Linked DNA regions of Homo sapiens. The protein of the gene in region 3 purifies or fractionates together with the protein of the main gene of each other region. This does not show direct contact. Each region holds a gene or a part of one and is shown on either strand. Other genes may lie near its edges. The genes, in order: SUSD1, SEL1L3, DIPK1A, CACNA2D2, TXNDC15, LRP12 and ANKRD44.

Region 1 (3,500 bases), on a different chromosome or scaffold from region 3:
ACAGAGTGTACTTACACAAACCTAGATAGTAGAGCCTGCTACTCACTTAGGCTGTATGGTATACCTATTGCTCCTAGGCTACAAATTCACACAGCATGTTACTATACTGATTACTGTAGGCAACTATAACACAATAAGAAGTACTTATATATCTAAATATAGAAATGATACAGTAAAAATACAGAATAAAAGATAAAAAAATGATACACCTGTAATAGGGCACTTACCATGAATGGAGCTTGCAGGACTGGAAGTTGGTCTGGGTGAGTCAGTGAGTGAATAGTGAGTGAATGTGAAGGCCTAGGACATTACTGTACACTTTTATGTATAGTAATGTACATACAGTAATATACATACAGTAATGTACTTGCTGGCAGAGCAGTAAGTTTGTTTACACCAGCAATGCCACAAACACGTGAGTGTGATGCACTACAACATTATGATGGCTACGATGTCACTAGGCAATAGGAATTTTTCAGTCTCATTATGATCTTATGGGACCACTACAATGTGGTCCATCATCATATATAAAGTGCTTAAAATAATACTTGGCACACAGTGCCATATGAGTAGACATGATTAGATATGCCAAATATCAGCCAGGCGCAGTGGCTCACACCTGTAATCCCAGCACTGTGGGAGGCCAACACGGGCAGATAACTTAAGGTCAGGAGTTCAAGACTAGCCTGGCCAACACGGTGAAACCCCATCTTTACTAAAAACACAAAAATTAGCCGGGTGTAGTGGTGGGTGCCTGTAATCCCAGCTACTCGAGTGGATGAGTCATGAGAATCGCTTGAACCCAGGAGGCAGAGGTTGCAGTGAGCCAAGGTTGTGCCACTACACTGCAGACTGGGTGACAAAGCGAGATTCTGTCTCAAAAACTATATATATATATAAAAAATATATAATATATTACATGTAATGTATTATATATAATATATATTACATGTAATATATAATATATAATACATTACATGTAATATATTACATATATTGTATATATTGTATATTATATATAATATATGTTATTCCCACATGACGTTTTTATATATATATGTATATATATACATATATGTGTGTGTATATATATGTATATATATATGTTCATTCCCACATGACTTCTGGGAATATATATATATATATACACCTAACATCAAAAAACTAACATCAGGAATGAAGAAACACCCAAACCATTTCCCTAATAGTCAGGAATAAAAAAATAATATTCAAAGGCAACACTACCATTTAAGTCTTTGTTCTAAAAATACAAAGTGATCAATCAAGAGAAAAACATAACTATTATAAAGAAAGAAAAATTTATGAATGGAATTATGATTTGCAGATGATATGATACTATTCCTGAAAAATCAAGAAAATCACCTGAAAATCTATGAGAAACAAATAGGAATTTTAAAGGTTTACTTAACTCATTTATTCCCTGAAACTGAAATTTAGAGAAAAATATGAAAACAGTTTCAAGGTGGTATGAATTGGGAACCTGTATTTTTTGAAAACTCACCTTGGCAATGTAATTTTGGGGACTCCCATGTGCCCAGGCCTGTGCAGCTTGAAACTGTATCTTCTGGAACACTGAAGAATCCTTCTCTGCAAGCATAACGAACCTGGCTGCCCAGACTAGACGTATAATTTCCTATGATATAGCCATCTGGAACCTCAGGAGGGGTACCACAGTCTATTTCTGAAAATAAATTAATGTCAAATTCATTACCTCGTGAATGTAAATCTTCAAAATTCACAATCTCTCTCCACCTCTACCCTATTCCTCACACACACACACCCCCGAGCCATATTTTAAGTACACTGGTTCATTCCCACATGACTTCTGGGAACATTTCCAACAATTGTCTTTATTCAATCTTTTGGCCTTCCATAGGTAAAGCATCTATACATGCACAAAGCTGAAATAACTTAGCAATCAACCCTCACTAATTTACACTAACTAAAGAGAAGCCTTGTCCAGTGAAATAAAAAATCTGAATTGCAAAATACCTTAAGATATATGTACCTTGATTATTTTCAGGGTCACTTTTGAGATGCAGGGACCTTACCAAATCATTGGCATTTACTATCTAACATAGTAGTTAATATCGGAATATCTATTAACTGCTAATAAAAATCCTTTAAGTTTATGAATTTTAGCTTTTTTTTTTTTTTTTTTTTTTTTTTTTTTTTTTTTTTTTAAGACAGAGATCTCACTCTGTTGTCCAGGCTGGAGTGCAATGGCATGATCTCGGCTCATTGCAACCTCTGTCTCCTGGGTTCAAGAAATTCTCATGCCTCAGCCTCCTGAGTAGCTGGGATTACAGGTGCCCACCACCACACCTGGCTATTTTTTTTTATTTTTAGTAGAGATAGGGTTTCACCGTGTTGGCCAGGCTGGTCTCGAACTCCTGACCTCAAGTGATCCACCAGCCTCGGCCTCCCAAAGTGCTGAGATTACAGAGCTACTGCTCCTGGCCTAATTTTAGCTTTTTTAACATGGCCCCCTGTAACTTGATTGTTGTTATTTGCTTTATGTCATAGGTTGTACAAAATGTGCAAAGGATCAGATCACCTCCACCTGCCTCCCCAACACAGGCTTGGAGCAGAAGAAAGTCACCATCAACAGAATTTCACGTTGAGATGCCGCAATTTTTGGCAGAAACCCACCTGTGCATGATGTGGCATCGGTGGTCGGGTGGAAAGGTTCAGGTCCATTCCTTGGCAAGTATCCATCCATACAGTAGCATTCAAAGCTCCCATGAGTGTTCACGCATCGCCCTCCATGCCTGCACAGGCCAGAAACTTCACACTCATCTATGTCTTGGGACCCAATCCAAATAGAGAAAAGGAGATAAAAACAGAAAAAAGAAAAAAAAAAGGAGAGGATATTGTGACAGCCATTTTTTCACATTTTCAAGCTACTCTTGTAAAAAGATGCATTTGTTTGCAATTGTATCATACATTTTATTTTATGCCTTATGGGTTCTTCTCATATATCGTTCATATCATAGGCACTGAAAACATAGCAAGTGCTCAATAAATGTTTGTCAGTGTGTTCTGGGATTTTACAAAAGCTGATAACCATCACCGGCTCCCTGACACCCAACAAAATGAACCAAAAACATAAATATATCCAATCACTAAAAAATATCCTGACCGGGCATGGTGGCTCACACCTGTAATCCCAGCACTTTGGGAAGCCGAAGCATGTGGATCACTTGAGGTCAGGAGTTCGAGACCAGCCTGGCCAACATAGTGAAACCTCATCTCTAGTAAAAATACAAAAATTAGCCAGCCATGGTGGTACATGCCTGTAGTCCCAGCTATTCAGGAGGCTGAGGCAGGAGAATCACTTGAACCTAGGAGGCGGAGCTTGCAGTGAGCCGAGATCACGCCACTGCACTCAGCCTGGGTGACAGAGCAAGACCCCGTCTCAAAGAAAAAAAAAAAGAAAATCCAATCACTAAAAAATCCAATCACTATAAATATATCCA
Region 2 (3,500 bases), on a different chromosome or scaffold from region 3:
AAGCACAGGTACCAAAATATTATCCACCTTGTAGAGTAGTCATAATTTTCTGTTCTTCAATAAAGGGATGAAGCACGCACTGTGATTCTTAAGACACATCTTAGTGTATAAGAATCCAGATCTGCCGTAGGGCATGCTATGACTCCTAATACATACAATCACTAGAACAAAAGTCTGTGATGGCCCAGTAAACTTCCCCACATGCCCTATGATCAAGATGTTCCTTGTATGTGTTTGATGACCTTTGGTATTACCACTGCCTGATCTGGGTACTTCCTTGTAATTTGACTTTAAAAAAAATGACACCAATTGCAAAATTTGCATCCAGTTGACAAGACATTTAAGGTGTTTATCAGGATCATGCCCTGGCCCCAGCTTCCCAATACCAGCTGTTGAAAAGATTCTCTCTCATCTGGAGAGAACTGGAGTGCACAGTTCACCCACGTGGCTCCGGGTTATTAGTTACTGTGGGCTGGTCTTGGTCAGAGGCATCTGCAGCTGGAGTCACAGCTGGACTTGCAGTGGACGTGGCAGTGTCTGGGGAGGCCTGGGATGGTCTTGGAGGGGGATCGCTTGCTGCAGAGACACATGCACAACAGGTGCTGAATACTCAAAACAGTGCATTCAGAATGTACAACCACACCTAGAGACTCTGGCAAGCCAGGAGAGATGCATCTAGTCTAATGAACCTGACACTAACTAGCCAGGCAACTCTGGACCCGTTATCTAAGTTTAAGAAGATGCCACCACATGCTGACAATCTGATTTCTAAATAAAAACCCTTCAAGAGTTTCACCTCCAAGTGCCGATGCTCATTCCTAAGGGGACATTCTAGGAAGTTTAAGAATGGGTCCCCAAACTTCTGGCTTTTCTGGATATATGCGGGAATTCTTCGGGCCCCTTCCAGTACCTACAGAAGAGGTCGTGGATTCCAACACTCTTCTGAAAGAATAGGAGAGTGATGGGGAGGGGCAGGATGTTGTAGAATGATGTACCCTTTCTAAGGTCATTAAAGCCACTACTCTGGCAGGTGATCTAGTGATTAGAGCCCCAGTGATGAGGTACAAAGACCATTTTGCAGCAGTCAGGAGAACTGGGTTGGACAAGCCTCATTTATCTGCTGCTAACAAGGGACCTTGGGATAGGTACAGATGGCAGACATTTTGGTTGTAAAATGTTTGAGTCTCCCGGGCCTCGGTTTCATCACTTGTGAATTGAGAGTCTTGGATTAGATGATCTTGAAACCCACTTTGATCCTAAGATTTACCTTCCTGATGATCTCTGAGGAAGTTAATGAAGTACTAAGGCATGTATTTTCAAGCTCAGGGAAATGTTTAAATCACCATGGTAACAAGATAAATCAGCAATGAGTTTTCTGATTTAAAAAAAAAAAGTGCCAATGTGTAAATGTAGAAAGAATGCATAATTAGCATTGCCACCATTTAAATCTTTGGTAAGAGCATAGTAAAAATGTTTGATGTTTCTACAGGAAGTTAGTCATTATCTGTGTGAGGACTCCCCTTCTTCCACTGGGGGGTTTGCAATCACTGCACAAGCCCCCCACAGCCCGGCCTAATTTTAAAGTGGCCTCTTTGTCTCTGCTCATCTGGAATGTGTGCTAATTTTATTATTGGACTAGAATCAAGGTAACCAGGACAATAAGCATGTTGTTTAAAAAATTACAGAGTATATTCCAGAGCCAAATAGGAGTGATTTGTGAATTATTTGCTGCCTGGGGGACCATTTTCTGTACATTAGTGAGAAATATCACGAACTGGCCCAAACTGCAGCCCATGGGCCAAACGTAGTCATTGCTTGTTTTTGTACGGCTCGTGGTTTAAAAAACAGTTTTTACAATTTTACACAGTTGAACAGAAAAAGAGTAATATTTCGCGACATGTGAAAAATATATGAAATTCAAATTTTGCATCCATAGTAAAGATTTATTAGAAACCCAGCCACAGGCCGGGCGCCGTGGCTCACGCCTGTAATCCCAGCACTTCGGGAGGCCCGGACGGCCGGATAACCTGAGGTCAGGAGTTTGAGACCAGGCTGGCCAACATGGTGAAACCCTCTCTCTACTAAAAATACAAAAATTAGCCGGGCGTGGTGGCACGTGCCTGTAATCCCAGCTACTCGGAAGGCTAAAGCCGGAGAATTGCTTGAACCTGGGAGGCCGGAGGTTGTGGTGAGCTGAGATCTTGTCACTGCACACCAGCCTGGGCGACAGAGCGAGACTCCATCTCAAAAAAAAAAAAAAAAAAAAAGAAAGAAAAAAGAAACCCAGCCACAATGGCTGCTTTTCAGCTACCGGCTGAGTGGAGTAGTTGTGACCAAGACAGCCCCGAGGGCCCAAAATATTTATTATCTGGTCCTTTACAGAAAAAGTTTGCTGATCTCTGCTGTTAGGAAGAACATCTGCTTGCCGACTGACCAGATGGAAGCAAAAAAGAAAGAATACGTGGGACTATGTTGGATTCACATGTGAAATGAGAGAATGTTTGCACAAAGGAGGTATACAGGGGAAAACCCTAGAAATTGTATGCTATAAGTAAGATCATGCCTACTTCATCTGGGCCTCTGGATCTAGCAGGGACCAGATTTGTGTCACTGAAACACTCTTCAGGAGTGGAGATACTGGTAAGATGTCAAGCTAATGAGACAGGACAGAGTACAACCTCCTCATGAAATCTCTCTGACTATAAGGCTACTGCTTTCTTCATAAGCACTACTTTGTGACATTTTACTATAATTTTAGTAGAAACCTCATTAGCTGGAAATGTAGATGACAGGAAACAGCAGGAAAAGGTTTAATTAATCTTATACATATCACCATACTCTTTTTAAAAGAACATTAGGCTAACCACTTAGCTGGAAGGAATGAGTTGTCTTAAATTATAAATGTATTGAATAGGCTGACGTTGGTTTAAAACGTTACCTAGTTGTACCGAGGAGCTAGCAGTTCTGCAAATCTTGCTCTATATGGTGTATTCTATTGAGACATAAAGTTGACATGATACTAGTAAGACAGGGCTCTTTCTTTGAAATAGTGACTTCTATTTTCCACTTCTGTTCTTGCCTTTAGCTTCCTTCAGGCAGCTGACGGTCAGGCTCTGTGATTTTTTGGTCTCAGGGGAGGTTTGTGGCCAGGCAGAAGTGGAGATGGCTCCAGACATATACTTTGGGATTTTTTGTTTTTCAAAAGCCTGATCCATTAAGGCAATTATGCTTGGTGTACCCTCCCAAAGAGTGGACAAGGAGAGTGCTTTTGAGATGCAACAGGTGAGGAAAGGAGCTTTTTGGAGTCCTTGGGTTGTACCCACAGTACCCTTGGGTGCCCCATCAGCAATCAGAAATGAAGACTTGGGAGAAGAAGGGCTAATGACGCTTGGCTTTGGCAAAGATGACGGAGTTCCCAGGTGACCCAGAAGCTGCAAAGCCAATGGACCTAGGGGAACAGTGTAGGCCCAGGGTGATGTGTGTTCTGCTATCAGGCTGGT
Region 3 (3,500 bases):
AATTGATTTAGCTAACATTTGCTGAATACTTACTACGTGCCCAGCAATATGCTTATGTTTTATAGGCATTATGTCATTTAATCTTATTTAGGTTCACAATATTAGTACATGTCGATTTCTGTCTGATGACCAAACCTCTTATTAGAGACGAGTCATCTTAAATATCTTTCAAACAAACCCCATGGTATATACCCCATTGTCTTTTATGTGATTTAATTTGGAGTTTAATCTGAACTTTCTTTTTACTTAGAGCAATACAAAAGTATCTTGCATTAAGGCACTTTTTCATTTTAATAATAAAGCTCAGAGACCTACAATTTTACTGAGAACTCATTGTACTCAAGCCTTTTGGTACAGGGATTCACCATCTGTTAACCTCACAAAGATATCTAAACCACAAATAGGGCCAATAGAATTCAGTATTTCCTGAGTCTCTTTTTCCTTTGCACTCATTGTCTTCTGCAGGTGTGCTTATGTCTCTCTCATCTCTTTCTGCTTCTTTGCATGCTCACAATGCTCACAATATCCTACTGTTCCCAGTGTGAGAAACTGGCTCGTGATTGTAAAAGCAAAACTAGCTTTTCATTGTTTGTTTACATATCTTTAATTTATTCTGCCGAATTCTCTTCGTAGTCCTCAGTTCTGCTGTTTATAAAACCAGACCATGGGTGCTACAGACTCAAAAAATAAATGTCAAATAGTCTTGATCAAGTGTCACTTTTGAAGATGAAACTGTTTGATATGTAATTGATGGAAAAAAGGCATCAACCAGCCCGAGTTGCAATTAGATACAAGAGCACTGGAAACAAAACAATGCAAAGAGGATCCTATTGTGCAGCTTTACACTTTGCAAGTTGATATGCAAAGAGTAACTTATTTTTAATATATCTTAACCCTTCTCCAGTCATTTCTCCTTTAACAATTGTTAGCGTCTCCTCAGTTTCCAGAATATCTATTCGGTGAAACATTTGGTTCGCTGAACAAGAGGAACATAAAGCCCTGGTGAATACAATAGGGAAATAGAAATGACTGTAGAGCTTAATTTCTTGTTCTGGTTGTCAGTATGAGACATTAGACAAATAGCCAGATTTTCTGTTCTTATTTCTTTAAAACAAAATTATTTTTATCATGATTTTCCTAAAGACCTTTAAGATTCTTATGTGAAAGAGTCTTTTGTAAGCTTCTAGTAAATAGGAATTGTACCTCTCTTTACCTGATCTCACAAGGTGCCCAGGGTAGCATGGTACATGTGCTTGTGCCTAAAAAGTAGCTTTGGATGATGGTGGTATTTGAAAGGTTATACATCTTAAAGGATATTTTGTTCCCTTTTTCCTTGGCAGGACCAAGGAGCTTCCTTTTCTAAGACCAGTGCTGTTTGGACTCAGTGAAAGTGCACTTTGTTCTAGAATTGCCATATAAAAGCCTGGAATATATATTGAGTTGTTCCAAGAAGGGTGAGAAGTCGTGTTCTAGGACATTGAATGCTGATTTGGTGCTGAATGAATGATCGTTATGTTCTTTTTTACTCACAGGCTCGCTTCTCATATGTGCGGATGAAATATCTTTTCTTTTCCTGGTTAGTGGTTTTTGTTGGAAGCTGGATTATATATGTGCAGTATTCTACCTATACAGAATTATGCAGAGGAAAGGACTGTAAGAAAATAATAGTAAGTATTTTAAATTTCCTGTTTACTAAAAAGCCTCTTCATAACACTATATTTACTGCTTACATACTTACTAATGATGTTTTTAAAAATAAAAGTTAATTTGACATTAGAATTGTGCTAATCTTCTTAGCTTTTTGACATGACCCATTAGTAAAGTTTTCCCCACTTTGAAAATTCCAGTGTTCAGAAATTTAAATATATAACACATAAATAAGTTAGTGTGGGGGCATCCTCAATACAAAGAAGGATTTTTATTATATATATATATATTTTTAATATATTTAAGTTTTAGTTTATTTCAATCAGATGAGTTTTTTAATGTTTAGACTATAAAAGCGTATTTACAGGCAGACTTTCTAGAACACATCTTTTACTCTTGAATACCAAAATTTATCTAAAAGGATTATTATTCTGTTTCTATCCTAGTGATTGGATGTATCTCAGAAAAATGACTGTATCAGTCTAAGATTTCTAGTAGTGATCATTAATTCTATAGACTTATATTTTAAAAATTTGAGAATTTCAAGTAAATTTAACTCCTTTTTTTCCACCAGTACTTTCTCTCTTTTTTTTTTTTTTTTTGAGACGAAGTCTTGCTTTATTGCCCAGGCTGGAGTGCAGTGGTACAATCTCAGCCTACTGCAACTGCCTCCCAGGTTCAAGCAATTCTCCTGCCTCAACCTCCCAAGTAGCTGGAATCACAGGCTCGCACTACCACGCCTGGCTAATTTTTGTATTTTCAGTAAAGACGGGGTTTCACCATGTTGCCCAGGCTGGTCTTGAACTCCTAGCCTCAAGTGATCCGCCCTCCTTGACTTCCCAAAGAGCTGGGATTACAGGCATGAGCCACCGCACCTGGCCTCTACCAGTACTTTCTAATATAAAGAATATTAAAACACTCCATCTCAGAATTATATTTGAATAGTAATGATTTGGAGGGTTCCAATTATTATAACTTGTTAAAGATTCTATAGTTGTTGAGTAGCTACTCTTTACCCAGGCCAGTGGTGTATGCATATAACAGGGAGCAAAATATCTTTGACCTTATAAAACTTACAGTGGATCAGGAAAGAAAATGAGTAATTACAGTAAGGTAAGATAAATAAGATAGCAACTGTTATGGGAACATAAGACGGAAACCTGGAGCTTCCCCAAGTTCTAAGAAAATAAAAACCAGTTTAACACAAGGTGCTTCATCAGTTAGGATACAAAAACACGTTATTCCACAGGAGTGTTACAGTCTTTTAACTAGGCAAGAGAGGGGAATGAGTTAGTAAAGAAGAGTCCTAAGTCAAGGTTCAAAGATAGCAATCCTGTGTTCATTCCAACTGGCCATTCTAGATCCTTAAGGAATTTTAAGATAGGAGGTATCTCTGGGGCCAATGTACTGGGTACTTTACATGTTCATTAATCCTTAGCATAATAGTGTACAGATAAAGAACTATGACCCAGAGAGACAGGAGAATTTGCCCAAGATGATGGAACCAGAATTTGATCCTAATTCTGTCTCTCTATGAAGCTCATACTCCTTCTGCTACCCTACATCAGAAAAGACTGACAGAAGAAGTTACAGTCTAATAAAGCTAATAAAACCCCACAAAACTCAGTTTCTAACCTTCAGTGAAGAAGGAGGAAACAGGAGGTAGATAATCAAGTTCAAAAACATACAAATAACCGAAACTATTTGAAATGTTTATTTCTCTTTCTCTAGGCCACCTTTCTCAAACTAGGTACCTTGGAGCACATTAATAGATATTCCATGGATAAAATATGTCCCTGGTCAGATGTATTTGGAAACAGAGGGTTAAATAAAGATAACAACTGACTTTACTA
Region 4 (3,500 bases), on a different chromosome or scaffold from region 3:
CAGGGGTGCTGCTGGAAACTGTACCTGCTTCCCTTGGCTAAGGGCGTGGAGACGGGCTGGGTCTCCACCCTTCCTAAAACCTGTCTGGGCTCCAGGCAGCCATGGGGGATGCTAGGGCTCCAGAGAGGGCATAGGGCTGCTGTTGAGGCATCCCCAGTTGGGCCTGTGCCCTGGGCTTATGAGCTGTGCATGTGTGGGTGAGTGAGCATGCATGTGTGTGTGTGTGTGTGTGTGTGCCTAAGTGTGAGTATCTCTGTATGGGTTTGAGAGTGAACCTGAGGATGTGGCCGCTGGGGCTCCTCTGTGGCCTCTCCCTGCCCAGCTGGACTGGCCACCTTGCTGGTCTGCACCTGGGAGGGGTCCCTCTGCTCTTGGCCTGTCTCACTGTGGGTGGTCCACCTTCTTAGCCTGTCTCCACTTCTGAGCTCTCTTTTGCTCCCAGGGCTTTAATTGTATAGAAGACAGATTGTCCCTGATACCAAATACTCCCACAATGCACTGCAAGATTCTGGGGAAGGGGGCACTTGGGGTGCTTGGAGGGGCTGGGCAGTCACTGGTTGGACTGTTCCTTTCTGATAGGACTGTGAGGCAGGGTTTGGACACAAGCCGATGGGGAAGGGGTTGGGGGGAAGAGGAGAAGGAGGAAAAAGAAAAAGGAGGGCGAAGGAGCAGGGAAGGAGACTATGCTATGTTGTCATTGTTACTAGGGCCCTGCATTTCTGGGGTCACTGGGTGGGATGTGCGGGGGTGGGGAGAAAAAGACAACTCAAGCCAGTGGGAGTAGGGCACATCCCCCACCCCCGCCCTGGCCACTGGAGGTGGCTCTGATCCCTTTATCCCCTTTGCTGGACTAGGCTGGACAGGGCCCCTAGGGCTTCTTGGGTGCCCCTGCTTCCAGGTCATGGGGACATCCTCTTGTGGCTCTCCATGCCCCATCTGCCCAGGGATTCCCTGGGAGAGGTGGCTCTCTGAGACCTTTGTAATGCTGTCCTCTCTCACTCCCCTTACTCTCTGCCAGGGTCTAGGGGTTCACTACCCACTCTTCCAGAAGTCTCCTTGGCTTAGGCACCCCAGTGTGCCAGAACCCTTCCTTTCATACCCAGCCTGATTTCCTCCAAACACCTTTGCTGGCTCTTGGGGTCTAAACAGATCCCATTCCATCCCTGTCCAGGCCCCTGGTCCCCAAATCTGGTTTTATTTCCCCAGGGAAACACCTTTTCCATACTGCCAAGCCACCCCGGGGCTCAGCAAAGCCTCTGGAAGCAGCGGGCCGGCAGGACACGGGGACATCAGCACCTGTGTCAGTGCCCAGGAGGCGCGGGTCAGCCCTGCTCTTCAATGGCTGGGGCCTGCCCTATGCTGCCCTTTGGCCCCAGCATCAGGGCGTGAGGCTTCTGAGCCTTCTGCCTCCCTTCTTGGAGGGCTGCCAGCTTCTGAAGCTACTGCCAGAGATCAGAGGAGGGAGAGCTACCTCAGAGTAGGCCTTGTGGGCTGGCCCCTTCCCACAGCTTCACATGAGCCCCACTAGGGGCTGATCTACCCCCTGCATCTCAGGCCTCCAGCCCTGCTGAGTGGGAGGTGGTGGAGAAGCGTCCAGACTGTCCCTACTGTTGAGTTGTCTTAGAGGGACAGAGAAGGTGGGGGAGGCAGGGGCCTCCCCAGAGAGAGTGAGGGGTCCAAGGAAAGGGTTGTGGGCCCTGAGAACACGCCGGAGAACACCCTGCAGGCAGGGCCAGGGGCACAGGCCACTGGCTCTCATAGGGGCTTAGGAATCAGAGGAAAGGCAAGAACTAGAGGAGCCAAGGGGAAGCTGGGAGGGGGCCCTGGAGAGCAGGGGTTTGGCTGGTCCTGGGCAGGGAGGGGGGCAAGCAGGGGCGTGAGGATGGGAGGGGTGGGAAGAGGAGGGTGCACTGGTTCTGAATATACTTGCCCTTCAGTTTGCTGATTGGCACTGGGACAGTCCACCAAGAGAGAAAGCGAGGAAAACAAAAACAACACAAACACAAAAACAAACGAAAAGGGGGAGGGAAAGGGGAGGGGCACAAACAATATTTTATTCAATGGCTGTTTGAATGAAAATATTGTGTCTCATCATCATACCGAAAGGAAACTTCTTGCAAAAAACGACATGAGAGAGAAAGAGAGAGCAAGAAAACTCAAAGGAGATGAGCCCCCAGTCGGCCAGGCAGGTGGGGGGCGCCCGGTGGGGCCGGAGCCCCAGCCTCCCTCCCAGTGACCTCGGGCGTGGTGGGCAGGCAGGGCCACAGGCTCTAGAGACTCTCTCAGGAGAGGCCCAGGATGAGCAGGGCATGCAGGGGTGAGCCACAGGCAGAGGAGTGGGAGAGGCAGGGGAGGAAGGAGGGGGGCCAGGGAGAAAGCAGGGAGGGGGAGGGAGGAGGGGGATGGGGAATGAAGGAGGGAAGAAAGAAGGTGAGGAGGGAGCCAGGGGGCAGAGCGGAGGGAGTGTGGGGAGTGGGACTGAAGGGGGGGGGGTGCTGGGGTGGGGAGAGCGGGAGGGAGGGAGAGTGAGAGAGAGAGATGGAGGAGGTGAGCAGGAGAAAGAGGGAGATAGAGGAGATGCAGGGAGAAGAGGAGGGAGAGAGGGAAGAAGAGAGGACAGTGCGTAAGGGAGGGAGGTTGGATGCAGAGGGGAGAGAGGTAGGAAGTGAGAGGAGAAGGATGAGAGGGTAAGTGGGAACTGAGTGAGGATGGATGAGGAAAGAATGGAGAGGAGGGGGCAGAGAGAGAGAGAGGCACCATGGGAAGGGGGCACCACAGGGGTAGAGAGCTGAACAGGAAGAGAGAGGAAAGAGGGGAGGGGAGGGAGAAAGAGGGGAGGGGAAGGGAAAAGGGGGGAGGGGAGGGGGGAGGAGGGGAGGGGAAGGACTGGAGGGAGAGGAGGGGAGGGGAAAGAGGGGGAGGAGAAGGGGAGGAAGGGAGAGGGAGGAGGGGAGGGGGAGGAGGAGAGGGGAGGTGGGATTGGGGAGGAGGTAAGGGGAAGGAGGAAGGAATTGAAGGGAGGGGGAATAGGTGAAGGGAAGGGAGAGGAGGTGGAGGGAGGAAAGGGGAGGGGGGAAGGTGAGGGGAGGGGGGATGGTGAGGGTGGGGGGAAGGGGAGGGGGAAGGAAAAGGGGAAAGGGAAGGGGAGGGGAAAGGGGAGAGGAGAGGGACAGGAGGAGGGGGAGGAGAAAGGGGAGGGTAGGGGGAGGAGGAGGGGGAAGGGGAGGGGAGGGGAAGGGGAGTGGAGGTGGGTGGGGAGGGGAGGGGGAAGGTAAGGGGAGGGGGTGTCTTCCAAGAATGCAGCCCCCAGGAGTGTGTGGGGCAGGCAGGCTAAGGAGGGAAGACACGGAGTAGGAGAAACCAAAAACAGCAACCTCAACAGAAACCATGAAAGAATGGTCTGGAACCGAATCTGAGAAAAGGCAAGCATGCAGATTTCCACAGACTTTCGAGGTGCCCCAGCCTGCGGGCACCTGAGGGTGGGCAGACTGGGCAGGAGG
Region 5 (3,500 bases), on a different chromosome or scaffold from region 3:
AGGCCTGAAAACAACATTCATCTCCTTGTGCATCTCCACCAGAACTCTTGGTTGACCAGGTGCATTGTCAACGAGTATAATATTTTGAAAGGAATCTTTTTTTCTGAGCAGTAGGTCTCAACAGTGGGCCTAAAATACTCAGGAAACCATGCTGTAAACAGATGTACTGTCATCCAGGCTTTGTTGTTCCTTTTCTAGAGCACAGGCAAAATAAATTTAGCATAATTTTTAAAGGCCCCAGGATCTTCAGAATGGGCAATGAGCAATGAGCATTGGCCCTGTGGTTGCTCATACCTGTAATCCCAGTACTTTCAGAGGCCAAGGTGGGTGGATTGCTTAAACCTAGGAGTTCCAGACCAGCCTGGGGAACATGGTGAAACCTTATCTCTACAAAAAATACAAAAACTTGCCAGGCATGGTGGTGGGCACCAGCTACTTGGGAGGCTGAGGCAGGAGGATTGCTTGAGCCCAGAGGCTGAGGCTGCCATGAGCCATGATTGCGCCACTGTACTCCAGCCTGGGTGACAGAGCAAGACCTTGTCAAATAAATAAATAAATAAATAATAAGATTTATTGTTAAATAAATAAATAAGACCGCAGCTACACTGGCCTCTAAAAAGAGTCCGCCTGTCCTTTGAAGCCAGGCATTGACATCTCTTGTCTAGCTATGAAAGTCCTAGAAGCCACCTTATTCCAATAGAAGGCTGTCTTATCTACATGAAAATTGATTTTTGAGTATAGCCACCTTCATCAATTCTCTTAGCTAGATGTTCTGGGTAAGTTGTTGCAGCTTCTTTTTTTTTTTCCCCATTGATCTTTGATGTTACTATGTTGTAGCTTCTCTATCAGCACTTGCTGCCTCACCTTGCACTTTTATGTTCTGGAGACAGCTTCTTTCTTAAACCTCATGAGCCAACCCCAGCTAATTTCAGACTTTTCCTCTGCAGTTTCCTCACCTCTCTCAGCCTTCGTAGAATTGAAGAGAGTTAGGGCCTTGCTCTGGATTTAGGCTTTGGCTTAAATGTTGTGACTGGTTTGATCGTCTATCTATAGCATTAAGATTTTCTCCATATGAGCAATAATGCTGTTTTGCTTTCTTATCATTTGCATATTCATTGAGTAGCACTTATTTTTATTTTTAAGCATCAGAGGTCACCACACTGGATGGAGTAGCACATTAACTTCCTTTAAAAACTTTTCCTTTGCATTTATAATGTGGCTGTTTGGTGTAAGAGGCCTAGCTTTCAGCCTGTCTCCTATGTTGGCATTCGGCATGGCTTCCTCACTAAGTTTAATCAATCATTTTTGGCTTTGATTTAAAATGAGAGATGTACAACTCTTCCTTTCACGAGAGATGTACAACTCTTCCTTTCACTTAAACAGAGGCCACTGTAGGGTTATTAATTCACCTAATTTCAATATTGTTGTGTCTCAGGGAGAGGCCTGAGGAGAGGGAGAGAGATGGGGAATAGCTGGTCGGTGGAACAGTCAGAACATAGACATTTACTGATAAAGTTCACTGTCTTCTATGGGTACAGTTGGTGGCGCCCCAAAACAATTACAATAGTAACATCAAAGATACTTATCATAGATCACCATAACAGATATAATAATAATGGAAGAGTTTGAAATATTGCAAGAATTACCAAAATGTGACACAGACACAAATTGAGCACATGCTGTTGGAAAAATGGTGCTGAAAAACTTGCTGGATGCCGAGTTGCCACAAACTTTCAATCTGCAAAAAATGCAATGTCAGCAAAGTGCAATGGAGTGAAATGCAGTAAAATGAGGTATGCCTGTATTTGAAATGATGAATTATGAAAAATATTAAAATAACTTGTAATATTAGGAAAGCGCAGAGGAAAGTTTAAAACTTTCTGCTTAATTCAGCAAGACTTAAAAAAAGTGAAAGTTTATAACTTGTCATTTGATCATACTTTTTTGCTGGTTCCTGGATTCATATGGTTCAAAATCCAAAAGGTTCCGAGGGTTCCTTCTCTCGCTGCTCCTACCCACCCGTTCCTCTCCCTGGAGCAGCAGTGTGTCCTGTTTCTTGGGTATCCTTTCAGAAAAATGTACTTTTACTGCTAACTTTAATGCTTGTTTCTTTTACCACAGGACCTTATGGATTTTCTGAACCCAAACGGTAGTGACTGTACTCTAGTCCTGTTTTACACCCCGTGGTGCCGCTTTTCTGCCAGTTTGGCCCCTCACTTTAACTCTCTGCCCCGGGCATTTCCAGCTCTTCACTTTTTGGCACTGGATGCATCTCAGCACAGCAGGTATCTTCCATTGGTGGGGTTTACGTCCATCCTCCTGGCTGATGGTTGCAGTTATTTGGAGGTCCTAATTAGTTAAGTTAGAAGCAGAAGAGGGGGGGCATGAACTGTGTCCTGGGATGGAAGGCAAGGCAAGAGTGAATAGTGAGGATTATCATACTCCTGAGGGAGCTGGTGGTGTCACTTTATGGAGGCCCCTTAAAGAAAGTGGGCTGTTCTCTGTGTGGTGGATTTAAAGGTGGCAGGTGGTAGCACCTGATGGCAGGGGAGGGGCCAGAAGACTTTTGAGGGCCATAGCCAGACTGAATCAGCACAATTGGTATCACAGTAGGATATTCCTTTGTGACTTTAAGGCGCAGGTTAAATCCCCATCCCAGGCAGCCCAATTCCCAGCACCCCTGTTTTGTGTCTACTCAGGATTTCTTCCCTTCCTTTTCTTTTTCTTTCCTTCTTTTCCCTTTCCCTCTTTCCTTCTTTCTTTCCTGCGTACTTATTCTTGCAGTCATGTTCTGTAGTAGGCACTCGATCAAGTCATGAATTAATTTAGCTCTTTAACATGACATTTATCTTTGTTTTATATTTCTCGTGTATCATTCACTGGGTTTTTGTCCAGGCTGGCCTTGAACTCCTGGGCTCAAGCGATCGTCCTGACTTAACCTCCTGAGTAGCAGGACTACAGGCATGCGCCACCATGCCAGGCTGGTCATTTTTTTTTTCTTTTTTTTTTTTTTTTGAGGTGGAATCTTGCTCTGTCACCCAGGCTGGAGTGCAATGGTGTGATCTAGGCTCACTGCAACCTCTGCCTCCCAGGTTCAAGTGATTCTCCTGCCTCAGCCTCCTGAGTAGCTGGGATTACAAGCACCTGCCACCATGCCGGCTAATTTTGTATTTTTAAACGGGGTTTCACCGTTTGTTGGCCAGGCTGGTCTCGAACTCCTGACCTTGTGATCTACCAGCCTCGGCCTCCCAAAGTGCTGGGATTACAGGTGTGAGCCACTTTTTGTCTTTTTTAAATGTTTAGTAAAGTAAGTTACAGAGAACTTTGTTGAGATGGTATATGTTTCTCCTAAGTGCTGCGATTGTGCCTGAGTTATAAACTGTTCTTCTCTTCCAAATCAGATGCTCCTTAGTAGGTCAGCCTCAACAAGGAGGTTGTGTGTAAATAAATCTAGAACATCTGAAAAATGGTCAATTGGTGGTAAAATGAAGTTGAGTAAA
Region 6 (3,262 bases), on a different chromosome or scaffold from region 3:
TGGGATAGAAGAGGAATTTACATTTTACTGTTTGAACCAGGATGATGTATTAGTTAATTAAAATAATAAATTAAAACATATGCTAGAAAACCAAAACCCTTGTACTTGATAATATATTAGTACTAGGGCATAAAAGATTATTTGGTAACCCAAATTCTGCCAGTAGAATATATTATAGGGGTCTAAAATGTATGTGAAAACAATTTAAAAAGAGAACTGATTGTGTTACTGCATCTTGTGAGATACGTCAATTAAAAGGCAGTTTAATCAATTAAACTCTCTCATCTTGTGAGATACATCAATTGAAGGGCAATCTCAAGCAAAATAATATTCAAGTCCTTAGAAAATTTTACCCTCGAGTACTGGTAAAAGCTACTACTTTACTATAAAGTAGTTAAGGAATGATCTCCTTCTAATCATTTTTATTCTAGATATATTGCATATTTTATGGCCTGAATTTGTATATGCACCAAAATTCAACAAATAAAGAACAGCTTTGATTTAAAAAGTACCTCAAGGCAATAAAAAAAATCATTTTAATTTTTGATACATATTAAAACATCTTAGTCAGTTCCTCCTGACAGCATTAACACAGACAAATACACAAGACTTCAAACATGCTTTAAAATGACATTCAGCAAAGTACTTAAAATTTAATAAATAGCAAATCACACACAGATACATTTTTCATAATCATTAAACTACTAAAACAGACAGTTAAAGAATAAATAAACCGCAACTGACAGTAAAAAAAATATGTTGGGTTTTGCAATTCACACTACTTAAAAAGGGGGGATGATCTGAATGATTTCTTAATTTTCTTTTGAGAGTGTAGCATGATCCCCCCCAGGAATAAAATATATTGAAAAAATCACTCTTACAACAATGTATTTTTTAAATACAACAAATAAATATGAAACCAGCAAAGCAATTTCAAGTTGTAATAAAAATGTCCCCCGCCCCCAGCCAAAAGCTATGGAAATATATAGTTGCTGTGGTAGCAAATAATAGTATTTAAAGTGATAGTGCTTGTGCACTAAGCTCATCTGAGACCTTGATATAATTTTAGTGCAAATCCCTAGGGTCCAATGCAAGCGCAACCCTGTATTAGGGAAAGACATTACCAGGTGGAACTTATCTTGTACAATTTTTGTACATGTTTTATAAAGTTCAAGATTTAATGCATAGTAGAATATCTTCATCCACTTAATTCTGTTGCTAAATAGAGATGAAAAAAGAAATGACTTGGGATTTTACCATTTGGTTTGTACCATGTTAGAGTATTAAAGTCAACATTAGAAAATCTTTATAAAAGAGTTTTGTTTTTGCCAGTAATTTATCGAACTCTGCCTAAATTTCACATGATTGTATGTTAAACGTAAGAGAAAAATTTTTAGACAGTTTGTTTCCCACTGACAAGTTCATATGATAATGAAATCCAATAATAGACAAATGTCAAACAAATGAAAACGCAGGTGAGTATAAGGGTTTTTTTTTTGTACATTAACAACCTTAACATCTAGTATATTAAGTTACAAGATGTGTTGGCAAAAGCATAAACGTTTCAATTAAAATAAGGTATTATTTTGTAAAAACAAACCATTTAACATAGGATAGATAAAAATGACAATCAAATGAGTTTCAGCAGCCACATTTCTACAGTGAACTACAGTATCAGGATGAAAACAATCAGAAACAAATGAAAGGACATTATTGAACAATATGAATATGTGATGCATTTTTAGCTGCTAAAATAGTAAACTCTAAGTTCATAGAGTTACAAGTTGTCGAATTTAACCATGCAGGCTAACATATAATAATAAGAAATCACCCTGCATTTTTTCTTTTTAAACTAAAACTAGTTTAACTGTAAAGTTACAAAATAATAAATGGATATTGCTCCAACTTGTATACAATCTCCCTTATGTGATTCGTACCTAACAAAGTAACAAAGCCTCATCATCACTCGTTTCGTTTTTCAGTGTTACTTCTAAGCAAGTGTCTGGTATCTGGGCAGTGTGGACAATACCACAGCGCTCACAGGGGCCATCTCGATTACTTGGCCTTACTCCAGGATTTGTTGCATTATATGGTTGTCTAAGCCCTTGTCCTTGATCTGAGGCAAGATCAAGAAGAGGTCTGGAGCAGTCATTCACATCAAAGTCTGAAGATCCATCAGAAATTGGAATTAGCATTTCAACATCATCATCATCTTCTCTTCCACTTACCCCATTATCAAGTTGTCTCAAAGGACTCTGGTTCTGACTTAGGGAACTTGATCGTCCTAATGTAAAACGTACCCAGCGTAGCCCCTGAGTCATACGACTGAGTGCACTTGTAAGCTGGTGACGTGCTGGACTCACACTTGGGGGTTCCACACTTGTCACATCCCTTCCATTATCTGCATGACCACCTCGGGTACTCTGAGTTGAGGAACTTGCACATGCTCCTACTGTCGCTTCTACTGCCGTTGTGGGAGGGACTTTTTGAGGCAAAGGAGCTGCAACCCCACCAGATGCTCCTGCCATATCTCTTCTCTCATTTTCTGTGTCTGTATCATCAGACTCCACGGAAAACAAACTTCTGTGAGTATGATTTCTCTCAGGTTCTCTACTGGTACTCTGACTAGGGACAACCTCATCTCCATCTGCTGAGACCAAAGCCAATGACCCAGAATGACGTGATCTTGCAAAATTAAAAATACGGTTCCAAATGTTGCTTGATCTGCCTGCCATAGGAAGCCTGACTGAAGTAAATCCAAGCTGAGATCGTACCGCTAGCCTCAGATTTTCCAAAACAGAAGCCTACAAAAATAAGAAAAGATCTTAAGATAGTTAACAACAAGGTACTAAGATAAAAAAAAAAAAAAACACCCTTCTATTAAGAATGTGTTGTGGTTAAAAATTCTGTTACTCATTGTTGCTTTTGGGTCTAAGAAGGAAAAATTAAATTCTCTTACCTATGTGGGTTCATCCTACTACAGAATCTAATCTACTAATCTAACTTGAATCATTGTTTGTTTAAACTTTTCTTGATATTCCATTTTATATATGCAACTTAAAAATGATATTTAATGTAAATTATAACAGTTGTTTCAAAATCTCACATCGTAATCCAACATGAAAAGTGTACCAAAGCTAGAAAATAAAATTGATACTTCTGTAACTAGGAACATAGGAGAATCTCTACATAATTGACGAAGTGACCAAAATGAGTTTGTGAAAACGAGGACTTTTATCTTTTTTTTTTTTAAAGAACAAAT
Region 7 (3,310 bases), on a different chromosome or scaffold from region 3:
TTTCTATTTCTAGTTTATCACGTCTTTTGTCATAACCCAGCTCAAATCCTTTATGGGCCAGCCTGGGCAATATAGTGAGACCCCATCTCTACAAAAAAACAAAATTAGCTAGGCATAGTGGTGCACATCTGTAGTCCCAGCTACTCGGGAGGCTGAGGTAGGAAGATTACTTCAGCCCAGGAGGTCGAGGCTGCAGTGAGCCGAGATCTCACAACTGCCCATCAGCCTGGACAACAGAGCAGAAAAAAACAAAACAAAACAAAACAAAACAAAACCCTTTATGGAAAAAAGTTGGAAGCATAAATACATATAATAAACACAAGCATATATGTTTGAATTTTTTCTCTAATTGTGATAACACAAACATAAATCGTGAATCTGGAGATACACTTTTATCTTGATTATTTTCTAAATTTAAAGTTAATTTGGCTTGAGGGGGTGCAAAGATTTAAATTAGCATAATTTAGAAAAAGCATAAATTGGAAAAATTAAAACACAAATTCCAACAATATTTGTACCGTTTTTATTTGTAAAAATAACCATCTGAATGCATTTCCATAGTATATTACAGTTAAGTACTTCATTACGTTATTAGAGCATTCAGTAGTTGCAAAAGTATTAAACTGTGCTTGAGAAGATTCAGATTGTTTCAAAGTCATTCACTGAACTAAAAGTCATTTTCCCCATTTTTACAGTCATGACATTTACCAGAGTCATTCAACTCCAATTTACATAAGAAAACATTATAGACAAAATCCCACTGAAATCATCAAACAATATTTTATGCTGTTACAAATATGTTATGCAAAATATAACACTGGCACCAGATTTGTATCATCGTGCTTTACAAAGATATATTGCACATGCTAGAGCATAAAATATGTAGACAAAACTACCAAATAAAAGATATTTGCATTGAATTTTTAGATCACATAAGAAACGCATAGAATTACATTTTATACAAACACTCAGATTGTCACTATCTTAAAATGCTTTTCCCCTATAATACTGACCTATGGTTTATAGTTTCGTAAGACGAAAGCATTTTAGCACTGCAAAATCAAACAATTCCTATAGAAAACTTAAGCATTTTCATATTCATTTCAATGCAAGTACAAGGGGAAATAGGAAAAAAGACACTTTATACATTCAAAGAAAAGTTGAAATGAAAACTCACTGGTATCATATTGCTCTGATAACACTCAAATGAAAAAATACAAAACATTCCACAGAACATTTTCAGAATATACAAATATAAAAAGGCACTCTAACTTCATATTACAAGACAATAAAACGGATGAGTTCTTCAACCAACACAACATATAAGCACACCAAGTTGCTCAACAGTACAAAGAATAACTAGTGCAGCAAATCCATTTGATGTTCTTGTTCTAATTTAATAACAAAATGATAAACCAAGCAGTGTTTACTGCCTAAAGTACCAAAACATACTATGGTGCCCTTTTAGTAGTGATAAATAGAAATACCCTGAGCTATTTACTGTAGAATCATAGCAGATTTTAGGCAATTTGGAGATAGTAATGTATTTAGCAAAGACAGGCAGACACTGGCAAATAAGTAAGTGCAATGAAACATGATCCTTGTAGTTGTGGTTAAAATACAGTCTAAAAATAACACAAATAAAAGCACTAAGCAACTAAGACTCAGTTAAAAACACATTTTTTTTTCTTAGAAAGCTATGGTGCAAACATAATTTTATTTCTAAGAGATGTAATTAAAATACAGAAATGATAGTTTTTAAAGTCATTTCTTTAAAAAAATTTTGCCTTGGGGTATGGGAGAAAGAGAAAGAGAGGAAGAGAGAGAGAGAGAGATCAGTTGATGTAATGAACAGTTCATTGTGAGCATGATTTCATTTCGTTCCTTTGTCCTCCTTCTATGAGTAAGAGAGTGGGAAAAGTCAAAACGCAGCTCCATGGAGATAACGTCTCATGGTGAGTCACTGCTTTGCTGAAATGATTCTTGTACTCTCTGCTACACGACAGGAAAAATGTTAACGCTGCTTTGCCATTAAAGCAAGCATTTCATTTCCTGCTTGAAATGCCAACTGAGCAAGATTTCCATTCACTTCTAGAAAAAGACACCGCAGCATATTGTGCTTCTTCAACACTGAACCTCTCTTAATTTTCAGTGTTTTGGTAAAGATAAGGTCATTATTGCTCATTAGCAATTTATCTGCTTTTTAAAAATTCATCTTCTCTAAACAAACGAAAAGGACAGAAGGTGGGAAGCACAACACCAAGAATTCAAAAAAACAATGGTGGTGGTGTGGAAAATTTTCAGTGAAATCAATACCAGTTCAATAAATCCTTTGAACAAGTTCTCATTTGTGAAGAACCCAACAGGAGTTTTAATTAAATCCAGGATATTAAGAGTAAGATTAAAGTTTTATAGCTAGATGAAAAATATAATACAGTTATCTGTCTTTGATCCAGATATGATAGAACATTATTTTTGAAATATCTCACATACACTATAAAATAGCAATTTCCAGGGTGGAAATGGAACTCATTATAAAACGTCAGAGAGTACTGCTCTAATTCGACACATTTCTTTTCTGTCTCTTCCTCAAGTAGAAAATAGCACTTGAGCTGGTGATTTTTATTTCTCCTTTTGGCACATGTGCCCACACACTGCCATCATTTCTCATCAGGTTACTGAGACTATGTGAGCTTTTCAGTGTACTTAGGGTAATTTCTAGATATTTCTTTGTGCTGCCTTTGTGTATATGATCCACTACACATCTGAGTTTTCATCTCGCAGAAGGGCATCCAGACTGCAATGTCTTCTAAGCTCTAAGCTGGCTACAGACTGTGGCTGAGCAGTAGAAGATGCGTAGCCCTCTCTAACCAACGCGGAAGAACCTGAGGGTCATCTGGAAACCTTAGCAGTGGAAATGCTAGGTTTGGCCCTTGGGCTTTTGGCTAGCCCAGGGTCAAGTGTTTTTTTTTTCACTTTTTTTTTGTTATTCTAAATAAGATACATAGCAATTAAAATAGAGAACAAATAATGGATGTTTCCTCACCATTTGTTTCATTTCAAATAAATATAAACACATTTACAGCAAAAGTATATGGACATTTTCTCTAGTTTGGCAAAAAAAAAAAAAAAGGTCAGCACATCATCAGTTACAAATGTTAAGTGGTCAACTAGAAATCTGTGTCCTAAGAAATATAAAATACAACAAAGACTGGTACACAGAAAGATTACATTTAACTCCATAAAAAAGCTACTTCAGTTCTCACTTGCATTTTGAAGGAAAAAAATGTGTATCTTCCATTTTAGACTG

The links.
Region 1: the proteins of DIPK1A (region 3) and SUSD1 purify together in Homo sapiens (affinity purification with mass spectrometry; one large-scale study listed by BioGRID and IntAct). This does not show direct contact.
Region 2: the proteins of DIPK1A (region 3) and SEL1L3 purify together in Homo sapiens (co-immunoprecipitation; 2 studies listed by BioGRID and IntAct, with this or other methods). This does not show direct contact.
Region 4: the proteins of DIPK1A (region 3) and CACNA2D2 purify together in Homo sapiens (affinity purification with mass spectrometry; one large-scale study listed by BioGRID and IntAct). This does not show direct contact.
Region 5: the proteins of DIPK1A (region 3) and TXNDC15 purify together in Homo sapiens (affinity purification with mass spectrometry; one large-scale study listed by BioGRID and IntAct). This does not show direct contact.
Region 6: the proteins of DIPK1A (region 3) and LRP12 purify together in Homo sapiens (affinity purification with mass spectrometry; one large-scale study listed by BioGRID and IntAct). This does not show direct contact.
Region 7: the proteins of DIPK1A (region 3) and ANKRD44 purify together in Homo sapiens (affinity purification with mass spectrometry; one large-scale study listed by BioGRID and IntAct). This does not show direct contact.

What each region holds. Positions count from the first base shown.
Region 1 is NC_000009.12:112,140,798-112,144,297, forward strand, and holds part of SUSD1 (sushi domain-containing protein 1 isoform 2 precursor), read right to left. Parts: intron 2,827-3,500; coding exon 2,674-2,826; intron 1,703-2,673; coding exon 1,523-1,702; intron 1-1,522.
Region 2 is NC_000004.12:25,747,989-25,751,488, forward strand, and holds part of SEL1L3 (protein sel-1 homolog 3), read right to left. Parts: intron 577-3,500; coding exon 437-576; 3' UTR 1-436.
Region 3 is NC_000001.11:92,874,463-92,877,962, reverse strand, and holds part of DIPK1A (divergent protein kinase domain 1A), read left to right. Parts: intron 1-812; exon of another isoform or gene 813-1,002; intron 1,003-1,532; coding exon 1,533-1,667; intron 1,668-3,500.
Region 4 is NC_000003.12:50,371,135-50,374,634, forward strand, and holds part of CACNA2D2 (voltage-dependent calcium channel subunit alpha-2/delta-2 isoform b precursor), read right to left. Parts: intron 1,952-3,500; coding exon of another isoform or gene 1,931-1,951; intron 1-1,930. UniProt on the Homo sapiens protein: The alpha-2/delta subunit of voltage-dependent calcium channels regulates calcium current density and activation/inactivation kinetics of the calcium channel.
Region 5 is NC_000005.10:134,891,371-134,894,870, forward strand, and holds part of TXNDC15 (thioredoxin domain-containing protein 15 isoform 1 precursor), read left to right. Parts: intron 1-2,121; coding exon 2,122-2,285; intron 2,286-3,500. UniProt on the Homo sapiens protein: Acts as a positive regulator of ciliary hedgehog signaling. Involved in ciliogenesis.
Region 6 is NC_000008.11:104,488,736-104,491,997, forward strand, and holds the end of LRP12 (low-density lipoprotein receptor-related protein 12 isoform a precursor), read right to left. Parts: intron 2,805-3,262; coding exon 1,938-2,804; 3' UTR 501-1,937; downstream 1-500. UniProt on the Homo sapiens protein: Probable receptor, which may be involved in the internalization of lipophilic molecules and/or signal transduction. May act as a tumor suppressor.
Region 7 is NC_000002.12:196,986,162-196,989,471, forward strand, and holds the end of ANKRD44 (serine/threonine-protein phosphatase 6 regulatory ankyrin repeat subunit B), read right to left. Parts: 3' UTR 501-3,310; downstream 1-500. UniProt on the Homo sapiens protein: Putative regulatory subunit of protein phosphatase 6 (PP6) that may be involved in the recognition of phosphoprotein substrates.